Homo sapiens: one gene and its partner. The protein of the gene in region 1 interacts with the protein of each later gene in a pairwise test. Each region holds a gene or a part of one and is shown on either strand. Other genes may lie near its edges.

Region 1 (3,500 bases):
ACAATTTTATTACCTATAGTTGTCAGGTTGTACATTAGATCTCTATCAATTCATTCTTTTTTTATTTGAGACAAGGTCTCACTCTGTTTTCCAGACTGGAGTACAATGGCAAGATCCTGACTCACTGCAGCCTTGACTTTACGGGCTCAAGCGATTCTCCTGCCTCAGCCTCCCAAGTGACTGGGACTAATGGCATGCACTACCATGCCTGGCTAATTTTTGTATTTTTAGTAGATACGGGGTTTCACCATGTTGCCCAGCCTGGTCTTGAACTCCTGGACTCAAGCAATCCACCTGCCTTGGCCTCCCAAAGTGCTGGGACTATAGGCATGAGCTACTGTGCCTGGCCCCAATTCATTCTTATAATTCAAAACCAACTCAGAATATATAATAAAGCTTAGAGAAAGCTAAAGACATTGATATTGTGAAGTAATTTAACCTTAAATGAGATAGTTCTTATTTGGTTTTCTTTACCAGTATCTCCCAATCATCTGCTGAGAGGGGTTCCACCTCAACTTGTTGACAAGATACCACATGGGAACATGGCTTGAGAAATACCTAGAAAAAATTAAAAATTTAAAACTACTTTAAAAAAACTTTTCTGTGTCATATATTAGAAAATAAGAAGTTATCTTCTTACCATTTTAGGTTAAGTAGATGTGTGTGTATGTTTTGGATGGGGGTGTATATGTAGTCTATGTAATCTTTCTTTTCTGTTTTGAGAGATGGGGCCTGGCTCTGTCACCCATTCTGGAGTAGAGTGGTACAATCATAGTTCACTGCAGCCTGGAAACCCTGGGCTCAAGCAATCCTCCTGCCTCAGCCTCCTGGGTAGCTGGGAAAACAGGTGCAAGCCACTGCACCTGGCTATATGTGTAGTCTTTCATGTGGCAAATATTTATTACTTATTCTTAGCCAAGACTTGATATACTCAGCATTTTAGGAAAAACTGTTTCATAACTAATTACAGAATGAAGAAAAATACATCTCAGCATGACATGTTTTTCAAAAATGAAAGTAATCATTAAAATGTAAAAATGTAAGTAAAAAATATAAGAAGAAATGACTATATCATCAAGTTATGGCTTGATCTAATATATAAATATTCTCATTATTTCTAGAAGTTTTGCAACAGACATGCTGCTTCAAGAAAAGTGAAAAATACACTGAAATAGACACTGGAGACAAATATTGAGAAGTATAATCCTTCACAGTTGAAAGTTAAGTAAAACTAATAATACCCTCCTATTATAGTTTAAATATATGTAACACTAGTATGTCTATAAGCTGGAGTCACCATCTTACTTCCTTTCCCCTTCCATAGGCATTTCCAAGGATTAAAGGAGTAAAATCCAAAGCCTCTGCATGTTAAATACTCTAGGTAACCAACCCTTCCTCTCTGCTTTTGTGGACTGGAGCAGGATTTCCCTGAGTGCCTCACCCCCAGACTCCTCAGTAGATTTCTCTTCAATATCTCCCTTACTGAAAAGGATGATTCTGAGCAAGCACAAAGCAGCTCCTGCCCACCAAGAAGCTAGAGACTCAGTTTCTTAGTGGCATTGCTGCAATAAGGGATCTAAAAAAATCAGGTAAAGTCACTTCAAAGCAAATGGGAGTTAAAAACAAGTAGGATTCTTCAGAGTACTAATTAAGACTTGAAAATCAGGAAGTTGATGTTGCCCACAGGGAAGTGCTGGGTACTCAGAGGGCAGAACTGTAACCTGCTAAGCAATCCTGGGTAAAATATTCCATCTCCTTGTATTGTAGAACAAAGCACCAAAGTTAATGATTTCTAAGGTCCGTCTGGTGCTAAAATTTTAAGATTCTAGCAACAATTTAGAGTATGCAAGGGACTAGTGTTAGGTTTACAGATTTCTCATGAGTAGCCTATTCTCATCAAAAAACATGCATAAACAAGATTAGTCTGTGCTCAAAACAAGTTAAAAAGACATGGCACTCTCGTGTATTGTCATGGGAAATTAGTAATAGAGAGCAATGTAGCCCCATCTATATAAGTTTTAAACGTATAGCACCCTTGGCTATTCTGTTTTTAAATGTTTCAGTCCACATATATATCTGATTCTGAGAAAGCACAAAGCAGCTCCTGCCCCCTAAGAAGCTAAGGACTCCTGGCCTAGCCAGTCCACTTTCTGTTCCTATCAGTGATTCTTCAGGAGATAGTGTCTTACTGGCAGGGCTGCAACAGAGGATCATGAAGACGCACACAGAGAGAGAGAGAAAGAGAGAGACATGTTAAATGCACATTGTTTGTAATACATGGAAAGGTATCTGAAATATTTTGTGGGGTAATAATTGCAGAAAATATGAATGATCTCATTCTTCCAATCCTAAAGGTCTACTGAGATCCCCATTCTGAGGATGGGACTGGGAAAAGGTAAAAACTCATTTTTTACTTTCAATGGTAAAATAGTTATAATGAATATGTATTATTACTACATCTTCTTCTTTTAAGAGATAGGGTCTTGCTATTGCCCGGGCTGGAGTGCATAATCATAGGTCACTCAAATTCCTGGTCTCAAGCATTCCTCCTACCTCAGTCTGCTGAGTAGCTGGGACTACAAGCATTTGCTACCATGCCCAGCTAATTTTTTTAATTTTTTTATAGAGATAGGGTCTTGCTATGTTGCCTAGCCAGGCTAATCTTGAACTCGTGGCCTCAAGTGGTCCTCCCACCTTGGCCTCCCAAAGCACTGGGATTACAGGCATAAGCCATTGAGCCCAGCCTCACATTATTCTTACAGTTTAGAAAATGTTTAAAGGAATAACTTGATAAACATAAGAAAACAAAAGATAGACATAGGTATTCAAGCTTTCAGGTTTATAATCTAAACATATTAAACTCATAAGGGAAAACAAAAATGGAAAAATAATAACCCTGTGTTGTAGAATTTTTTATTTTTTATTTTTTTTCAAGACATTGTTTCGCTCTTGTCACCCAGCTGAAGTGCAGCAGTGCAATCTCAGCTCACTGCAACCTCCACCTCCCAGGTTCAAGCAATTCTCCTGCCTCAGCCTCCTGAGTAGCTGGGATTACAGGCACCTGCCACCATGCCCAGCTAATTTTTGAATTTTTAGTAGAGAGGGGGGGTTTCACCACGTTGGGCAGGCTGGTCTCCAACTCCTGACCTCAAATTATCCGCCCACCTTGGCCTCCCAAAGTGCTGGGATTATAGGTGTGAGCCACCGCACCCAGCTGAATTTTTTATTTTTAATCAAGTGAGACCATGGAAGGTTATAAAATATGTCAGAAATAAAGTTTAATAATAGTAAGTAGAACCTAGTAATTCAGAAGGAAAAATAATTTCATGAAACCAAAATTAGGGGATGTGGAAAATGAGTTAAATAGTAGAATAAGAAGCAAGTAGGGAGTATGGTAAACTACAAGATAATGACCTAAAAACAGAGTATAGTCAGCTTCAATATCCTAGACTAGTTACATAATAGCATACAAATTAGGTGACATCTCACCTCCTTTAACA
Region 2 (4,258 bases), on another chromosome or scaffold:
CAGTGTGCTGACACACAGAAGGAAGAGATGAGATCAGAATCACGTCCCTTAAGGCCTTGCAAGATGTCAGCTTTTTTTTTTTCTTCTTTTTTGAGACAGAGTCTCGCTCTGTCGCCCAGGCTGGAGTGCAATGGCGCAATCTCGGCTCACTGCAAGCTCCGCCTTCCAGGTTCACGCCATTCTCCTGCCTCAGCCTCCCGAGTAGCTGGGACTACAGGTGCCCACCACCACGCCCGGCTAATTGTTTGTATTTTTAGTAGAGACGGGGTTTCACCGTGTTAGCCAGGATGGTCTCGATCTCCTGACCTCGTGTTCCACCCGCCTCGGCCTCCCAAAGTGCTGGGATTACAGGTGTGAGCCACTGCGCCCGGCCTGTTTTCTGTTTTTTGAGATGGAGCCTCGCTCTCTTGCCTAGGCTGGAGTGCAGTGGTGCAATTATCGGCTCGCCGCAACCTCTGCCTCCCGGGTTCAAGTGATTTTCCTGCCTCAGCCTCCTGAGTAGCTGGGATTACAGGCACCCGCCACCACACCTGGATAATTTTTGTGTTTTTAGTACAGATGGGGTTTCACCATGTTGGCTGGGCTGGTCTCGAACTCCTGTCCTCAGGTGATCTGCCTGCCTCGGCCTCCCAAAGTGCTGGGATTAGAGATGTGAGCCACTGTACCCATGCAAGTTTCTTAACCCTTCTCTTCCTCATTTTCTCATCTGTGAGACGAAGACAGCCTCCCACCCAGACACACTCCCCTCACGGGGCTCTGGGGAGAAATGATGTGGAAAGCTTTGCTAGTAACCTCTACAGCATGGAGGGAGTTCTGGAAAAGTGATTTCAGAAAGGTGTTTATGCCTGGAAAGCCTGTTCATTTTTGTGATGTCCTTGGAGCTGGGCCAGGCATTATCGAGCTAAATCTTAGCTTTTGTCAGAATAGGGGGGTCATTGAGGGAAATTTCCAAAGGAAGGTGGAACGGGATGGGTGGGGAGGTAAGGGCATGAGCAGAGGCAGTGATCGTGGGCAGGAGGTGTCCATAGAAGACGGGCTGCCACTGGCCCTGGAGACAGAAGGTCAGCCCCGGGTTCAAATCCCTCCTTAACCAAGTGCTGAAATGGACAAGTTGCTCAACCTCTCTGGCCTTCAGCTTCCTCATCTGTCAAGCAGGAATCAAACCTCGAACTTCCTCCCGCTGTTAGAATTTCAAGGGAGTTTTAAAGACAGAGCTTTCAACTCTGACCTGTGAACAAGTGTGACATCAAATGTACTGTTCGTTGCTATTATTCTGTTGCTACAAGGCAGACAGTTAGTTTCCCAGCTCCCCTGCAGTCCCCCCAGCCCCTCCTAGATCTGTCTGCCAGCCCCGCCCCGGGGTCACTCCAGCCAGGCTGTGCCAGGTGAATGCTCAGGTATGCGGAGGCGGAGGCGGAGGCAGGACGGCCCTGGGAGGGAGCAGGAGGAGGGGCCGGCAGCCTGGAAGGGAAAGGACAGCGGAGAGCAGGGCAGAGCCTGAGCAGGCAGGTAAGGAGATCCGGGTCAGGAGAGAAGGGGGCCGGGGCTTGACCAATGGGTCTGAGGGACGGGGGGACTGGGGTCTGGACTCCAGGGTCTCAGGGAGGACGGGCTGGGGGTCTGAACTCCCGGGTCTGAGGGAGGAGGGCCTGGGGTCCTGGACTCCTAGGTCTGAGGGAGGAGGGGCTGAGGGCCTGGACTCCTGGGTCTGAGGGAGGAGGAGATGGGGCCTGGACTCCTGGGTCTGAGGGAGGAGTGGACTGGGGTCTGGACTCCTGGGTCTGAGGGAGGAGGGGACTGGGGTCTGGACTCCTGGGTCTAGGGAAGAGGGACTGGGGCCTGGACTTCTGGGTCTGAGGGAGGAGGGGCTGGGGGCCTGGACTCCTGGGCCTGAGGGAGGAGGGGCTGGGGCCTGGATGCCTGCATTGAGGGAGGAGGCTGGGGTAGGAATTAGAGGCTCCTACTGGCCAGGCCTTCACATGTTTGCTGGCTCCCAGGGCACCTCCAGGTGGGCAGGAGCTACCACTCAGCACCATGAGCACCGCCACAGGGTAAGCGCCCCCGGACCCCAGGTCCCAGCCCCAGCACGCCTCCCGCCTCCCCTCGCCTCCTCACCCACACCCGCTTGCGGCAGCCCAGACTGTTTGCGGCGGCCCAGACTCTGGCCCAAGCCCCGACACTCAGGAGGAAGCCAGAGCCTCTCTCCTCCCTGCCCAGCCTGGGGTTAGGGGCCCCCACTGCAGAGCAGACAGGCCTGAGCTCCAGTTCGGCCCTCACACTCAGTGCTGATGTAACCCTGGTCAGAGGACATCACCTCCTGGAGCCTCAGCCCCTCCTCTGTGACACAGGGACAATGTTGAAAAATTGGAGGGATAGTGCATTACAGGACTTAGCTGACCACCTCACTGACAGCAGGTGCTCAACTCATAGGAGTCGCTATTGCGATTGTTATGTTGTTAGTAAATATTAACCCTTTGCTAGAAAATCAGGGCTGTTTATAATGAAGACTCAAGTCCCCCAGAGTAAGCAGGGAGAAAAACAATGAGAGATGAGTCAAAATACCTGCATGGTAGGTAGTGAGCTCTCTGGCCCAGAGGTAATCAAATTGTGGTGACATCAGACTGGCAGGAGCAGGATGAGGAACAGGAGTTTGGGAAAAAGGGTTTTTCAGTTCCCCTGACGCCACCTGATCGCTGAGCTTCTGTTATGTGCATGCAAGTGGGGATTCAAGAATTCTTAGGAAAGGTAATCTTAGGAAGAAATTGAGGACGGGAGGAGACAGAGAAGGATGTGGTTGGGAAGCACCTGGCCCATGGGAGTGGGAGGGGAAGCAGATAATTCCCTGTCTACTTCAGATACCACTAATGCTATTATAACCATTCCCATTTATTGAGCAACTTCTGTGTGCTAAGCCCTGGCAGCATCTTAAGAATGATAATAACAGTTATTGAGGCTTCAAAATACTTCACCTGCATCATCTGACTGAATTTGCCCAACAGCCCTACCAGATGGTTACTACGTTACAGAAAGAAAAACTGAGGCAGGAGAGATTAAATCCTCTTCTGAAGGTCTTATGGCAAGGAGGCAGTAGACAGAGGGTTTGAATCCCGGACTATGCCATGGTAGAGATCACACTCCCCTACCACCCAGCACCACCGCCTGACCTGACCTGTCTTTTTTTTTTTTTTTTTTTTTTTGAGATGGAGTCTCACTCTGCTGCCAGGCTGGAGTGCAGTGGCACGATCTGGACTCACTGCAACCTCCGCCTCCCAGGTTCAAGTGATTCTCCTGCCTCAGCCTCCCACGTAGCTGGCACTACAGGCGCCCACCACCACACCCAGCTAATTTTTGTATTTTTAGTAGAGACAGGGTTTCACCATGTTGGCCAAGATGGTCTCAATCTCTTGACTTTGTGATCCGCCCACCTCTGCCTCCCAAAGTGCTGGGATTACAGGCGTGAGCCACCGCGCCCAGCCTACCTGTCTTCTTAAAGTCCAGCTCTGGCTCTGAGCTCTCCTGCTCAATAATAATAATAATAATAATAATAATAATAATAATAATAACCCTTCCATCGCTCCCCATTACCTTCGTCATGAAGCCCTTGCTGCCCTGCTTGGCATTTCCACAGGATCTGCCCCCAGTCCCACAGTCTCTCTCATTCCTCTTTTCTTCACCAGCCCAGAAGCTGCCCCAAAGCCAAGCGCCAAGTCTATCTATGGTGAGCGGGGGGCAAGGGAGCCCCAGGCCCATAGAACTGGGTCTAAAGAAACAGGACCTGGCATCCAGGGTCTTGGAGGAGGAGGGGCTGGGGGTCTGGACTCCTGAGTCAGAGGGAAGAGGTGCTGGGGGTCTGGACTCCTGGGTCAGAGGGAAGAGGGGCTGGGGGGCTGGACTCCTAGGTTTGAGGGAGGAGGGGCTGGGGGCCTGGACTCCTGAGTCAGAGGGAAGAGGTGCTGGGGGCCTGGACTCCTGGGTCAGAGGGAAGAGGGGCTGGGGGGCTGGACTCCTGGGTCAGAGGGAAGAGGGGCTGGGGGGCTGGACTCCTGGGTCAGAGGGAAGAGGGGCTGGGGGGCTGGACTCCTGGGTCAGAGGGAAGAGGGGCTGGGGGGCTGGACTCCTGGGTCAGAGGGAAGAGGGGCTGGGGGGCTGGACTCCTGGGTCAGAGGGAAGAGGGGCTGGGGGTCTGGACTCCTGAGTCAGAGGGAAGAGGGGCTGGGGGGCTGGACTCCTGGGTCAGAGGGAAGAGGGGCTGGGGGCC

Evidence for each region. The genes of interacting proteins can lie anywhere in the genome.
Region 2: the proteins of PEX1 (region 1) and EPS8L1 interact in binary tests that used the Homo sapiens proteins (3 or more experiments, as listed by UniProt).

The regions. Positions count from the first base shown.
Region 1 is NC_000007.14:92,518,521-92,522,020, forward strand, and holds part of PEX1 (peroxisomal ATPase PEX1), read right to left. Parts: intron 559-3,500; coding exon 475-558; exon of another isoform or gene 440-474; intron 1-439. UniProt on the Homo sapiens protein: Component of the PEX1-PEX6 AAA ATPase complex, a protein dislocase complex that mediates the ATP-dependent extraction of the PEX5 receptor from peroxisomal membranes, an essential step for PEX5 recycling.
Region 2 is NC_000019.10:55,074,411-55,078,668, forward strand, and holds the start of EPS8L1 (epidermal growth factor receptor kinase substrate 8-like protein 1), read left to right. Parts: upstream 1-1,458; 5' UTR 1,459-1,509; exon of another isoform or gene 1,510-1,997; 5' UTR 1,998-2,034; coding exon 2,035-2,051; intron 2,052-3,677; coding exon 3,678-3,718; intron 3,719-4,258. UniProt on the Homo sapiens protein: Stimulates guanine exchange activity of SOS1. May play a role in membrane ruffling and remodeling of the actin cytoskeleton.